2 linked regions of the Homo sapiens genome follow. The protein of the gene in region 1 purifies or fractionates together with the protein of each later gene. This does not show direct contact. Each region holds a gene or a part of one and is shown in the gene's direction. Other genes may lie near its edges.

Region 1 (3,818 bases):
CAGAGCGAGACTCCGTCTCAAAAAAAAAAAAAAAAAAAGTTAGCCTTTGGCCAGGCGCAGTGGCTCATGCCTGTAATCCCAGCACTTTGGGAGGCCGAGGCGGGTGGATAACAAGGTCAGGAGGTCGAGACCATCCTGGCTAACACGGCGAAACCCAGTCTCTACTAAAAATTCAAAAATTAGCCAGGTGTGGTGGCAGGCGCCTGTAGTCCCAGCTACTCGGGAAGCTGAGGCAGGAGAATGGCGTGAACCTGGGAGGCAGAGCTTGCAGTGAGCCAAGATTGTGCCACTGCACTCCAGCCTGGGCGATAGAGCCAGACTCCGTATCAAAAAAAAAAAAAAGTTAGCAGCCTTTATTCGGTCAAATATTTTATTCATGAATCATGCGTTTTGGGTAAGTTGCTAAATATTTGAGATTGCTGGTCAGGAGCAGTGCTGATAAATGTTTTTGGAAAGTGATTACTAAGCTGCTCTGGGACTGAAACGTTCTGGGGGAGCTTGCATCTGCTCACTTTTTCACTCGTGCACCACTGTTATTGCAGAGCCCAGGTAGATGACTGGACCAGGATGGGGTTGGCGTTTGAGGTTTCTGTTGTGTTCAGGCTCTTGCAACTTCCTTGAAGGGAGAACAACCTTTTTAGTAGGTGCTACACTTCATGAGATGTAATGAAAGCACATGGGCGTGGGTTTTTTCTTGGTGTTAGCCATGGTGGTTTGTTTTCACATTGTCATAAATACGTGTCACGTTCTTCACTCATTTACTCATTCATTTAGAAAAAGCTTTTTTATTGAGTGTCAGGCCCTGAGGACACAACAGGGGTCAAAAGCCACACTACCTTGGCCAGGCAAGGTGGCTCACGCCTGTAATCCCAGCACGTGTGTGGGGCCCATGCTAGACCTGTGGGGGAGAGACAGCTGACAGCTAAGTTGCTCTTTCCCAAGGGCTGAACAGTCTAGTGAAGAGATGGCCCCTATGTATTCAGCATCCAGTGCTGGGAAGACACAGGAAGAGGAGGCTCTTTGGGCTGGGGCCGGGGTTTGGGGACAGCCTCCTAGAGAAGGTCGTTGAGCTGGTCTTCATGGATAGAGGAGTGGCATCTAGAAAGGAAGGAGGGATGCACCCTCATCCCAGGCAGAGGAAGGAGGAAAGGACAGGAGGGAATTGTAAGAGGGAAAGAACCATAGCTATTTCTAAGTGACCAGAGCAAAAGGTGGGCAGTGACAATAGCAACAGAGAAGACTGAGAGCTAGAAGGACCCAGTGTCCGGTTTTGTTTTGTTTTTTAAATTAAAAAAAAAAAGTTTTTGGGGGCCAAGTGCGGTGGCTCACGACTGTAATCCCAGCACTTTGGGAGGCCAAGGCAGGCAGATCACCTGAGGTTAGGAGTTCAAGAACAGCCTGGCCAACATGGTGAAACCCCATCTCTACTATAAATACAAAAATTGGCTGGGTGCAGTGGCTCACACTTGTAATTCCAGCACTTTGGGAGGCCGAGGCGGGTGGATCACCTGAGGTCAGGAGTTTGAGACCAGCCTGACCAACATGGAGAAACCCCATCTCTACTAAAAATACAAAATTAGCTGGGCGTGGTGGCACATGCCTGTAATCCCAGCTACTTGGGAGGCTGAGGCAGGAGAATCACTTGAACCCAGGAAGCAGAGGTTGAAGTGAGCCGAGATCATGCCATTGCCCTCCAGCCTGTGCAACAAGAGTGAAACTCTGTCTCAAAAAACAAAAACAAAAAAACCCACAAAAATTAGCTGGGCATGGTGGCACACACCTGTGGTCCCAGCTACTTGGGAGGCTGAGACAGGAGAATCACTTGAACCTGGGAGGCGGAGGTTGCAGTGAGCTGAGATCACGCCACTGCACTCCAGCCTGGGCAACAAGAACAAAACTTTGTCTCAAAAAAAAAAAAAAGAAAGAAATAAGGAATTTGGACCTTATTTTGCAGGCAGTGTAGAACCATCAAAGAGTTCAAAACAAGCAAATGATATGATCGGAATTTGTAATTTAGAAATAACAATAGCTAACCTGTTGAAAGTCCCTTTTCTCTACGAGTACAGAATTGGACCTTATGTGTTATTGGATCCAATCCTCACACTTCCTCCCTATAAGGTAGGTACAGTCACCTTCTCTTATCAGCAGTTCCAAAATTTAGTGCATTCTAAACGTCAGAAGTGTGTATGTGTGTGTGTAAATTGGACCTGAAAACTCGTTTGGTGCTAAAATTTGGCCTGAACAAATGAGACTGTTTGTAATCTTTATTTACTGCATGCATCACAGTGGCATGATCTTGGCTCACTGCAACCTCTGCCTCCCAGGTTCAAGCGATTCTCCTGCTTCAGCCTCCCGAGTAGCTGGGATTACAGGCACCCGCCACCACACCCAGCTAACTTTTGTATTTTTAGTAGAGACAGGGTTTCACCGTCTTGGCCAGGCTGGTCTTGAACTCCAAACCTCGTGATCCACCCGCCTCGGCCTCCCAAAGTACTGGGATTACAGGCATGAGCCAGTAGCTTTTTACATTTAAAGTAGGGTCCAGCTGAAGTGAATTCATTTTACAAACGCTAAAAGCAGTGAGAACTAGCTGAGAGCATTTTGAGAAGAAAAGTGAAAGGTATGAAGGTTTTCCTGAAGTTAGTATCCACTTTTGTAAAATCTAGGCCAGTGGTTCTGGGCCAGGGGTGGTTTTCCCACCCAGGGAACATTTGGTAATATCTGGAGACATTTTTGGTTGTCATGATGTGGGGGAGGTGATATGGTTTGGCTGTGTCCCCACCCAAATCTTATCTTGAATTGTAGCTCCCATAATTCCCATGTGTTGTGGGAGGGACCCAGTGGGAAATAATTGAATCATGAGGGCAGTTTCCCCCATACTGTTCTCGTGGCAGTGAGTAAGTCTCAGGAGATCTGATGGTTTTACAAGGGAAAACCCCTTTGGCTTGGTTCCTATTTCTCTCTTGTCTGCTACCATGTAAGACATGTCTTCTGCCTTCCACCATGATTGTGAGGCTTCCCTAGCCACATGGAACTGTGAGTCCATTGAATCTCATTTTGTTTATAATTACCTAGTTTCTGGCATGTGTTTATCAGCAGTGTGAAAACGGACTAATACTGTATGTAACTAATACTGGCATCTAGGTAGAGGGTAGGGATGCATCTCAGTATCCTGTTATGCCCCACACCAAAGGATTATTGAGCCCCAAATGTCAATAGTGCTGATATTGAGAAACCCCAGTCCGGGCTTCATGTACTTATCTGGCCTCTCTAGAACACTGGTTCCTTAACTTGAATGTGCATCAGAATCACCTGGGGGTCTTGTTGAAATTCGGGTTGCTGGACCCCACCCCCAGAGTTTCTGATTTGGAAAGTCAGGTGGGGCCTGAGAGTTGGCATTTCTGCCAAGTTTCCAGGTGACGTTGATGCTGATGCTGCTAGTCCAGGGACCACACTTAGAACCACGGCTCTACAAGAAAGGAGGGTTATTTGTCACTGTGCTTGCCTATGTACAACCACCAAGAAAGAATACTGAATACAGAAATTAGCCAGGCATGGTAGTGTGCACCTGTAATCCTAGCTACTTGGGAGACTGAGACGGGAGGATCACTTGAGCCCGGTAGGCGGAGGTTGAGGTGAGCTGAGATCGTGCCACTGCACTCCAGCCTGGGTGACAGACCAAAACCCTGTCTCAAAAAAAAAAAAAAAATACTGCTTACATTTTATCCTCTTTTTTTTTGTCACCTTCTGGGATATATTTACCTGGGGTCATTCACAGATAGCCACCTAGTTCACTGTAATCAAACTGCATATGACAA
Region 2 (3,818 bases), on another chromosome or scaffold:
GCTGAAACTTAAATAAATGTTGATGAGCTTTCACTGGTGAATGTTCTAGAGGATTGCAGGAAGGCTGGTTGTTGAAGAGCCACACACTTTCTACCTGTACGTGTGTATTTACACATGGCCACGTGCATTTTACTACCCTCATGTATATAGTCAAATAAATACATGTGCATGTGTACACACATTCTTTCATATCACTTCTTGTCTGATTTGGCACCTTCCAAAACTCATTTTGAGGTGCCAGAATAAGTTTTATTTTGGCTTTTAGATGACAGCCTCCAGAGGAATGGCATCCACAATTACTCTTCGTCTCTGGGGGCAGCAAAATGTCCACAGCACTTGGGAACAGTCGGGTCAGTTGGAGTGGCATGCCCCCAGGAAGACAGAAACCTTCTTGTACAGTTGTCTGTTTTTATTATCATAGACAGGTGGTTGATAGCTGTTTTATTTCTCCCAAATATGGCTTTCGTTTTGGAGGAAAAACTTGGAATAAGTAGTGACTTACTTCATAGATGCTCTGCCCTTCTCCCCGACCCCACCAGTGGAGGGTGACATTGCTCCTTCAGCTCCCCACTTCTCAGCTCTGGGACATCGGTGAGTTCCCCAGGAAGGATGCGGACGAGGACAACCATGTACCTGCCCTAAGTGGGGAGACCAGGCGTGTGTACAGATAAACTTAATAGAGAGGCAAAAATGAAGCATGTCAGAAACACAGAAGTGCGGAGATTGTTCAGACCTCTCTTGGGTGATTACAGTGGACTCCTTATTGATCTTTTAGCTAATAAAATGAATGGAAAAATATTTCATAAGTGTACAATATGCAGTAGGAAAATAGAGTACTGTTTACTTAAAAGTCTGAAAAACACTGCTGTACTGCTTCCGTGCAATCACAACTGGGGTTTAGACACCCACTATCTTATCTTGTCTATTCCAAAAGGAGTCTAACATTTGTTTCTGACTCCACAGCCAGCAGTCTTTCTAGCACAACTTGTGATCCTCCCTGGATTAGACTCTTTCGGCTGTGGGAGAAGATTCCCACCTCTGTGTGTGCCTTCGAAGGCCTTTAGGATCTGGGCCCGCAGCCCCGTCTGTCACTGGCTGCCCCTGGTTGCCACTGATCCCTACCACCAGCCACACTGTACCATATGCTGCTTTGGCTTTTGGAATTTGAACAAAATCTAGCTTAACTCAGACATGCCCTCTAGGACTATATTGCTGTCATCATTTAAGGAATCAGAACTGTAGTGAAGAATACTTTGTAAATCAGCTTTACATACAGTTTTCAAAATAATCATGTATACAAACATATATAAGGTGTATTTGTCATTCACCATTCATTGAAGTGTTTATTACATGTTCTGTTTTGTCCCTCCCAGGGAAGAATCAACCAAAGTCCTGTCAGCCTTCCCCAGGAAGGCTTTCTATAGAGGACATGTGTGTTAGTTATATGTTGCTATGGAACAAGTTATCTCAAAATTTAGCAGCTTAAAACAACAAACACATTATTGTACACAGTATCTGAGGATCAGGAATCCAGGTACAGCTTAGCTGGGGTTCTGAGGTTGCAGTCAAGCTGTTGGCTGGGGCTGTGGTCATCTGAGGCTTGCCTGGGAGGGCCCTGCCTCTAAGCTTGCTCATGTGGTTGCTGGCAGGTTCATTTCCTCTTGGCTGTTGGCATGAGGCCTCAGTGCCTCACCACGTGGACCTCACCGTCAGCTGCCTGAGTATCCTCACAGCATAGCACTTCTCTTCCCCCAGAGTGAGTGATTCGAGAGAGGGGATCCAAGACAGAGATCAAGCTTTATATTTATATACAACCAGAAAATAAGTGGCACCCAAATACCTCAGGCTTAAAAAAAGTGAGACAGCAAGCATGGGAGCCTTTGTTGATAATAATGGCCTCTTTTTTCCATTTTGAGCCATATGAGATTCCCTACGTGCTGGGGGGGAGATAACTGCTCTAGGTAGATGTTTGTGTATTTCATGATCTGGTCCATAAGCGTTGTTGGAAAAAAGTGAAAATTAAAAGGAAACAAGTCTTGGCTAAAGGGGAAAAAAAAGTAAGTACAATTGCATCCTTTAGATCTCAGATTCTCTTTCTCATGACTTTATTCCAATTTATGTCCGTTACTTCCTTGAACATCCCACTGGTGACAGGCATAGCTGCCAGCTTCCAAGAGTCCTAATGATTCCCAGCTCCTGGGACTCACCCTTGTGCAGTCCCCTCCCACACAGTACCAGCGGTGGTCTGTGGGATGCTGTCACTTTTTGAAATCCAGTAAAAAGGTTTCTGTCTTTTTTACCTCATTGGTGAGTGATTGGGGAGTGGGACCCATGGGCCCTTTGATTAATGTGACTCTGATGTCCCAGTGAAAGTCTTTGTCATTCTCAGGCCGACTGCAGCAGTGGCCCAGGGCAAAGAGTGTGCGTCATCGATGAGATTGGGAAGATGGAGCTCTTCAGTCAGCTTTTCATTCAAGCTGTTCGTCAGACGCTGTCTACCCCAGGGACTATAATCCTTGGCACAATCCCAGTTCCTAAAGGAAAGCCACTGGCTCTTGTAGAAGAAATCAGAAACAGAAAGGATGTGAAGGTGTTTAATGTGAGTACAGCCAGTCCTCCATAATCAGTGGAAATGGAGCAGATGATCTAAAATAGCAGATGGCTCTAAAATATCTCTTTGGTTTTGAGTTAACATTTTTTCCCTTCCATGCTGAAATGTAGGTGAGTCTAATTTTCTAGAAATGTATAGAACTTAAATTATACCTCTACTTGATGAAAAAACAAACTCGCTTATGGGGGGGCCTCCTGACGGTCCCAGTTGTTCTGGCTGCTTTTTTCTTCCATCTCCTCACCAGACACTAGGACCTCTCTGGCATCAGAATTGCCTGAGCTAAGGTGCTTGTTCTAAGCTTATCTCTTCTCAGATTGAAAGGCGCCAGGTTGGGATACAGAGGCAAATATTTTTTGTTTTGTTTTAAAGATTTCCCTTTTAAAGCTGACCCACTTGTGCTTGTGGGGAGAAGAGGCTGTGGATGTGTTGGGAGACACAGCTTCCAGGTGCTGAAGAGCAGCACCGTCCAGTTGAACTTCCCAGTAGTGAGGGAAATGTGCTCTCTGCATTGCTCAGAACAGTAGCGACTAGCCACATCTCGCTATTTATGTTTAATAAATTTAATCATATTTAAATTGAATTATTTATTTAATCACATAAATAATCAAATTTAAATTGAATTAAACATTTGGATTCTCAGTCACACTGGCCACATCTGAGGTGCTCTGTGGTCTCGTGTGGCTGCTACATTCACTAGTGCATCTGTAGGATGTGCCACTCAGTGTGAGGCTTGCAGAATGGCAGCATGGGCATCACCTGGGAGTGGGCCTTGCCCTGGTCCAAGGAGTCAAACTCTGGGGGATGGCCCCATGATCTGTTCTGGCAAGTTCTCATGTGGTTTTTAGGTCCCCCGCACTTTGAGAAGCACTGCTGTAGACCACATGTGAGAGATGAGGGGCTAGGGCTTGTTGACCAGTGGCAGCGTCTGAGCCAGTCGGAAGGGACTCATGGCATTGCTGGCACTTTGTCTAAATTCTTGCCTTTCTTTCCCTGTTGTCCCTCTGTTTTCCTCTCAGTCAGATATTGCTTCTCCCCAACCCCTACCCTTAGTTTCTTTGAGTCAGTGGTAGCTGTGCTCTTGGCTGAGCTCTGCTCACACACCTCACTCCCCACCCCCAGTTTAAAAGCTCCCTGGCCCTGCAAGTGCCAAGTGAACAAGTCAGGCAGGCAGGGCCACTCCTATCAGGGGGAGTGGAGAGTGAGTACC

What was found.
Region 2: the proteins of WDFY1 (region 1) and NTPCR fractionate together in Homo sapiens (co-fractionation; one large-scale study listed by BioGRID). This does not show direct contact.

Annotation. Positions count from the first base shown.
Region 1 is NC_000002.12:223,938,748-223,942,565, reverse strand, and holds part of WDFY1 (WD repeat and FYVE domain-containing protein 1), read left to right. Parts: intron 1-3,818. UniProt on the Homo sapiens protein: Positively regulates TLR3- and TLR4-mediated signaling pathways by bridging the interaction between TLR3 or TLR4 and TICAM1.
Region 2 is NC_000001.11:232,967,520-232,971,337, forward strand, and holds part of NTPCR (cancer-related nucleoside-triphosphatase), read left to right. Parts: intron 1-2,389; coding exon 2,390-2,599; intron 2,600-3,818. UniProt on the Homo sapiens protein: Has nucleotide phosphatase activity towards ATP, GTP, CTP, TTP and UTP. Hydrolyzes nucleoside diphosphates with lower efficiency.